2 linked regions of the Homo sapiens genome follow. The protein of the gene in region 2 interacts with the protein of the main gene of each other region in a biochemical or structural test. Each region holds a gene or a part of one and is shown on either strand. Other genes may lie near its edges.

Evidence for each region. The genes of interacting proteins can lie anywhere in the genome.
Region 1: the proteins of MAP3K5 (region 2) and NEDD4 form a complex in vitro, tested with the Homo sapiens proteins (2 studies listed by BioGRID, with this or other methods).

The regions. Positions count from the first base shown.
Region 1 is NC_000015.10:55,836,613-55,840,112, forward strand, and holds part of NEDD4 (E3 ubiquitin-protein ligase NEDD4), read right to left. Parts: intron 1,993-3,500; coding exon 1,897-1,992; intron 1,569-1,896; coding exon 1,495-1,568; intron 1,238-1,494; coding exon 1,177-1,237; intron 1-1,176. UniProt on the Homo sapiens protein: E3 ubiquitin-protein ligase which accepts ubiquitin from an E2 ubiquitin-conjugating enzyme in the form of a thioester and then directly transfers the ubiquitin to targeted substrates. Specifically ubiquitinates 'Lys-63' in target proteins.
Region 2 is NC_000006.12:136,785,978-136,789,477, reverse strand, and holds part of MAP3K5 (mitogen-activated protein kinase kinase kinase 5), read left to right. Parts: intron 1-3,423; exon of another isoform or gene 3,424-3,500. UniProt on the Homo sapiens protein: Serine/threonine kinase which acts as an essential component of the MAP kinase signal transduction pathway. Plays an important role in the cascades of cellular responses evoked by changes in the environment.

The DNA.
Region 1 (3,500 bases), on a different chromosome or scaffold from region 2:
CCTCTCAGGTTCAAGCAATTCCCCTGCCTCAGCCTCCCGAGTAGCTGGGACTGCACGTGCACGCCACCACGTCCGGCTAATTTTTTTGTATTTTTAGTAGAGACAGGGTTTCACCACATTAGCCAGACTAGTCTCAAACTCCTGACCTCAGGCAATCTGCCCACCTCGGACTCCCAAAGTGCTGGGATCACAGGAATGAGCCACCGCGCCCAAATTTTTAATTTTTTATAGAGATAAGGTCTCCCTATGTTGTCCACGTTGGTCTCGAACTCCTGGGCTCAAGCAATCCTCCCGCCTCAGCCTCCTCAAGTGTTGGGATTTTAGGCGTCAGCCACCATGCCCAGCCAGATACATATTTAACAGAAGATTGTAAGTTAGCTTAAGAAATGAGTGCTCTGACAATCTGTCTACCAATTGGAAAAATTTAAGTAACTTTTTAATTTATATTCTGAATAAAATATAGCCACAAAGAAAGGCAGCTATATGTCGTCACATGTAAATATCCCTAATAAATATCTGATAAAAGAAGAAAGTAGGCCGAGCACGGTGGCTCACACTGGTAACCCCAGCACTTTGGGAGGCCAAGGTGGATGGATCACTTGAGGTCTGGAGTTTGAGACCAGCCCGACCAACATGGTGAAACCATGTCTCTACTAAAAATACAAAAATTAGCCAGGCGTGGTGGCGGGCACCTGTAATCCCAGCTACTCAGGAGGCTGAGGCAGGAGAATTGCTTGAACCTGGGAGGTGCAGGTTGCAGTGAGCCGAGATCACGCCACTGCATTCCAGCCTGGGCGACAAAGTGACTCACTCCGCGCTCAAAAAAAAAAAAAAAAGAAGAAAGTAAGTCACAAAACAAAATGTGTAAGGTGATCCTATTTAGAAAAACAAACAATATGTTATACTATCCCTAAAGCACTCTTGTTCTTTTGCTGTCCTAAAGTGAAGAGAATGGAATAGGGAAAAGGCTTGGGGGAAAGGGGACCTGTCCATGTTTATTGTCTAGACTTCTTGAATGACTGAATGGAATATTTAGTTAATATAAAAATATAATTTAGAATGATTTCACAAAACAAGCCATATACTTATTTTTCTCAGATGTGATGAGGCCTAATATTTGAAACTTATAGGTTATACTGTGACATTATGGAAGAGCAAATAAAAGAAAATGAATACCTCTTTAAAAGCAGCCATTTGCTTCTGGATTCGGTTTACAAATCGCCATTGTATTACAAGACTAAAAAGAAACAACATTTCATTTTCATGTGAACCAAGACAAAATTCTGAGGCACAATTATTCTAGTTAGAAACAAAAACTAAAGGCTAGCTGAGACCAAGGTAAAAGCTGAATATGAGTGCTTGCTACTGCATTGTGATAGAGAAAAAGAACACTGAGATTCTGGACAAGGGGACAGAGAAAGATGGTAAGAAGAGTCTTTCTGGAATAAAGTACAAAATTATATCCAATAAAATACATACTAATAAAATACTTACTAAATATATTCCTTTTTGTTCTTATTGGTGACAACTATTTCTGATCCACCATTTTTCAGCTCATGTTGATGTGTCTAAAATTAAACACAATAACTTGATATGTTATTTTAGCGAGAAAAATTTAAAAAGTATACATATTGTAGTTATACGAGAAACTTGGTGTTTTAAATTAAGTCCAGTCAAAAGTTAAAAACTAAGAAAACTTAAAATACTAGTTTTACTAAAATAAATATGGAACGAGTCAAATGTTAAAGAAAGTACAAATTCTTGCTCAGAGACAGCTTTTGTTACTGGGAAATGAATGTAAAAACAGAGCCTAGGAATGTATTAAGTGTACGTATTAACATCTAAACATTTGTCTCACAATTTATGTGCCATTTTAACTGATCAAAATTCACAAACCTGTCCAAAAAGTTCTTCATCTATGATAAACCTGAGGTCCAATTCTGTTGGGTCATTTTCAAGAATCCATCTTAGGGAATTGTAATATTCACTATCCTAGATGGGAAAAATTACATATTTAAAATTTGTATCTATAACACACCTGAAATTGCAAAAAACAGTATGTAGAGGGTCTGAATAATTGGGTAAAAGATGAGAGGTCAGATGGACATCCTTTACTTACACACATATATAAACAAAAATGTATGTGTGTATGTGTGTGTATTACAAAAAGAGATGGATGACAGGTAAGGGCAAGAGTAAAAATGCATCAATCAATTAATCAATTGGTGCCTACTTAAAAGTTTAGAATCTATGTTTATGTGGAAGCAGTGGAGGTACAGATTTTATCATCCAGTTAAAGGAATGAATACAGAAGTTTTCAGATAAAACCTAACTTCTCTGGATATCCAGGAGCACTTAGCACATTCCTCATATGCCTATGTGACTTCGTGTTAAATGTTTTATTTTTATTTTTTAATTTAATTTTTTTTTTTTTGAGACAGGGTCTCGCTCTGTCCCTTAGGTTGGAGTGCAGTGGGGCGACTGTGGCTCACTGCAGCCTCGACCTCCTTGACTCAAGTGATCCTCCTACCTCAGCCTCCCAAGTAGCTGGGACTACAGGCGCGCACCACCACGCCTGGCTAATTTTTGTATTTTTTGTAGAGACAGAGTATCACCATGTTGGCCAGGCTGGTCTCAAACTCCTGACCTCAAGTGATCCACCTGCCTCAGCTTCCCAAAGTGCTGGGATTACAGTTGCACACCCCTGTGTCCGGCACTAAGTGTGAAATGTTTAAGTAGCTATGAGGAGGCCATTGTTTATACCCAGCCCGAGTTAAAGAAAAATCTCTTAATAAATATAGAGGCTCAATGAACCAACTCAAGTAACTGTGCAATCTTATGATTTATAAAGAATCACACTGTTTGTGCTGTTAATATGTAATAAGAAAAGAATAAAAAATGAACTTGGTACTAAGGAAGATGCCCTGGAATTCATGTGAACACACATTGTGTGAGGCTATTCAGCAGCACAGGAAACAACACGGCTACAGTCCGGGGTTTAATCCTTGGGCTTCTGTTTTTTTCTAGGAACCTAACCATAACGCTTTGCCTTTCGACTGCCATTTAAAAAATATACACCATTTGGCCAGGTGCGGTGGCTCATGCCTGTAATCCCAGCACTTTGGGACGCTGAGGCAGGCGGATAACGAGGTCAAAAGACTGAGACCATCCTGGTGAACACGGTGAAACCCCGTCTCTACTAAATATACAAAAATTAGCTGAGTGTGGTGGTGCGCGCCTGTAGTCCCAGCTACACAGGAGGCTGAGGCAGAGAATTGCTTGAACTTGGAAAGCAGAGGTTGCAGTGAGCCAAGATCACGCCACTGCACTCCAGCTTGGCAACAGAGTGACACTCTGTCTCAAAAAAAAAAAAAAAAAAAAAAAAAAATATATATATATATATATATATATATATATATATATATATATAACATTCATCATAAAAGATCATAATGCAAATACTGATTCAAAAGACATATAACTTGGTATAACCTATTGAA
Region 2 (3,500 bases):
TCTTTCAACCTAGACAGGTCTCAGTTTAACCCCTGCCCATCTGGATGGCATGAACTCCCAGGATGAGTGCCCTCTCAGTCAGCATGAAAGCATGAAAATGTGACAGAATGAAGGTAGTGCATCAGTTTTATCCAAACCCTTTGTTTCTATTTTATTTTATTTGTTTTAGAGACAAGGTCTCACTCTGTTGCCCAGCCTGGAGTGCAGTGGCATGATCATGGTTCGCTGCTAGCTCGAACTCCTGGGCTCTAGTGATCCTCCTGCCTCAGCCTCCCGAGTAGCTGGGACTACAGGCATGAGCCACCACGCTGGGCTAATTTTATTTTATTTTACTATGTTTTTTTTGTAGAGACGGGGTCTTGCTATGTTGCCCAGACAGGTCTCAAACCTGGCCTCAAGCAGTCCTCCTGCCTTGGCCTCCCAAAGTATTGGGATTACAGGCGTGAGCCACCGCACCCAGCCTCCCATCTTTAAGTTTACTTGTACCCAATGTTTAGCTCCCACTTATGAGTGAGAACATTCAATATCTGGTTTGGTGTCTTTTTGGTAGAACAATTTATTTTCCTTTGGGTATATACCTAGTAATGGGATTGCTGGGTCGAACGGTAGTTCAGCTCTTAGTTCTTTGAGAACTCTCCAAATTACTTTCCACGGTGGCAGGACAAATTTACATTCTCACCAACAGTGTGTAAGTGTTCCCTTTTCTCTGCAGCCTCGCCAACATCTGTTATTTTTTGACTTTTTAACAAAAGCCATTCTGACTGGTGTGAGATGTTATCTCATTGTGGTTTTGATTTGCATTTCTCTGATGATTAGTGATGATGAACATTTTTTCATAAGTTTGTTGGCTGCTTGTATGCCTTCTTCTGAGAAGTGTCTGTTCATATCTTTCGCCTACTTTTTAACGGGGTTATTTGTTGTTTTGCTTGTTGATTTGTAGACCTTTCTTAAATGCGTAGTTTGTGAATATTTTCTCCCATTCTGAGGGTTGTCTTTGTACTCTCTTAATAGTGTCTCTTGTTGTGTAGAAGCTCTTTAGTTTAATTAGGTCCCATTTGTCATTTTTGTTTTTGTTGCAATTGCTTTTGAGGACTTAGTCATAAATTCTTTCCCAAGGCTGATGCAGAATGGTATTTCCTGGGCTTTCTTCTAGGACTCTTATGGTTTGAGGTCTTACATTTAAACCTTAATCCATCTTGAATGAATTTTTGTATATGGTGATAGATAGGGGTCCAATTTTATTCTGCATATGGCTAGCCAGCACCATTTATTGAATAGGGAGTCCTTTCTCCATTACTTACTTTGTTGACTTTGTTGAAGATCAGATGGTGTTAGGTGTGTGGTTTCATTTCTTGAGGTCTCTTTCACAACTTCTCAACTCTGCCCTATTACTCAAGAGCAGCCATAAACAGGACCTAAACAAATGATCATGACTATGTTCCAACCAAACGTTATTCGTGGACACTGAAATTTGAACTTCATATACCTCACAAAGTATGATTTCTTGTTTTATAACCATTTTAAAATGTAAAAACCATTCTTAGCTTGCAAGCCATACTCAAAAACAGGTGGCCCACAGGATTTGGCCCCTGTGCCATGCTGACCTTTGCTCTACACCCATGACCTGTACTTGAAAGTTGAATTTTTATGAGATAGTGGGAAGAACATGGTCCCTCATATTAGATCCGAGTTTTCATCCCAGCTCTGCTGTGAACCATGTAATTGTGAGAACGGCCCTTCATTGCCTCCAGTGGTGTTTCTTTGCCTGTAAAATTGACCAGGGTTAGAAGTGAAGGGGGAATTGAACACATTTTTTTAGGATTCCCTTATTTAATCCTGTGAATTTACAAAGGCAAGGTGGCATGGGATGCAGGCACAAAGCATTAGAACAGCATTTTCAAGGTTTGGCTTTGGGTCCTGATTCTTTTCTAACTTGGAGCAAGTCATTTAAAGCCTCAGAAAAGAGTGGAGTGTTGGAATAATTGGTATCTGAGATTCCCTCCAGCTCTCAAATTCTGTACTTTAAAATGACAGCATTATTAAGACAAATGAATCATTTCAGCTCGTAGAGATTAAATGAACTGCTTGTATATATCATATTCCTGCCCCTGAAGAGCTCAGAGTTGGTGGGGAGGGCAGACCAATGCCTTTGCCTTAGCAGTGCCTCTGTGCCAGGATGCTGGGCTCCCAGGAATCAGCTTCAAAAATCAGATTGAGGATACAGTGGGTTCAAGGGTAGCTTCTTATGCTTGTTTTTTGTTTGCTTTTTTCCTTTTTGTGGAGAATGGGGTCTCGCTATATTGCCTAGGCAGGTCTCAATTTCCTGGGCTCAAGCTATCCTCCTGCCTCTGCCTCCCTAAGAGCTGGGATTACAGGTGTGAGCCACCACACCTGGCAAGGGGTAGCTTCTTAAAGGTGGTGACACCTGAAGTGAAATGGCAGGGTAAGCAAGGAGAGCCTAATGAAGGTCTCAACGTTTACATGGGAAACAGTGATGTTCGAATAGCTCAACCTAACGGAGTGAGTAAGAACTTATTCCCAGCTACTCGGGAGGTTGAGGTGGGAGGATCCCTTGAGCCTGGGAGGCTGAGGCTGCGGTGAGCTGAAATCGTGCTACTGCAGTCCAGCCTGGGTGACAGAATGAGACCCTGTTTCAAAAAAAAAAAAAAAAAAAAAAGAAGAACTTAAAGTTTGGTAACATTTTTAATAAACTTTCCCAATCTTTGTGTACTGATGTCTTTAAAAAGAATAGGTTGCAAGTTAAAGGTTTTCACTGATTTTTTCTTGATCTGTTTACTATTTAACTATATTTTAATTTCTTCTTTGACTACAGTTGTCATTTGCTTTTTCATTTTCTTTCTGAGGTGAAGCTAATGCTCTGTCAATGCTTTTATGAAAATTCATCTTATTTACGTATACAAGAGACTGTCACTCAGAGACAGCAAAGCCAAGCTGACAATACCCCTTCTTTGCCCTCTGCATTGTAGGCAGAAAATTCCGTAAAAGCTAAGAGATGTCAATACTATCGTGTTGCCCTGTGTAGGTGGACAGATCCCAAATGGGAAGCTTTCCAAATTTTTTTTTTTTTTTTTTTTTTTGAGATGGAGTTTTGCTCTTGTCACGCAGGCTGGAGTGCAGTGGCTCGATCTCGGCTCACTGCAACCTCTGCTTCCTGGGTTCAAGTGATTCTCCTGCCTCAGCCTCCTGAGTAGCTGGGATTACAGTCATGTGCCACCACATTCCAGCTAATTTTTTTGTATTATTAGTAGAGACAGGGTTTCATCTTGTTGGCCAGACTGGTCTCAAACTCCTGACCTCAGGAGTGATCTGCCTGCCTTGGCCTCCCAAAGTGCTGGGATTACAGGCGTGAGCCACCGCGCCCAGCCCTAAATTTTTTTTAAAAGACATCAATGCTGCTATTCTCTTGTTTTGCTTATGAAAACACTGAACCGTGAAGAGGTTATATTCATTCATTCAGGTTAAATGTTTGAAGGTTCTTG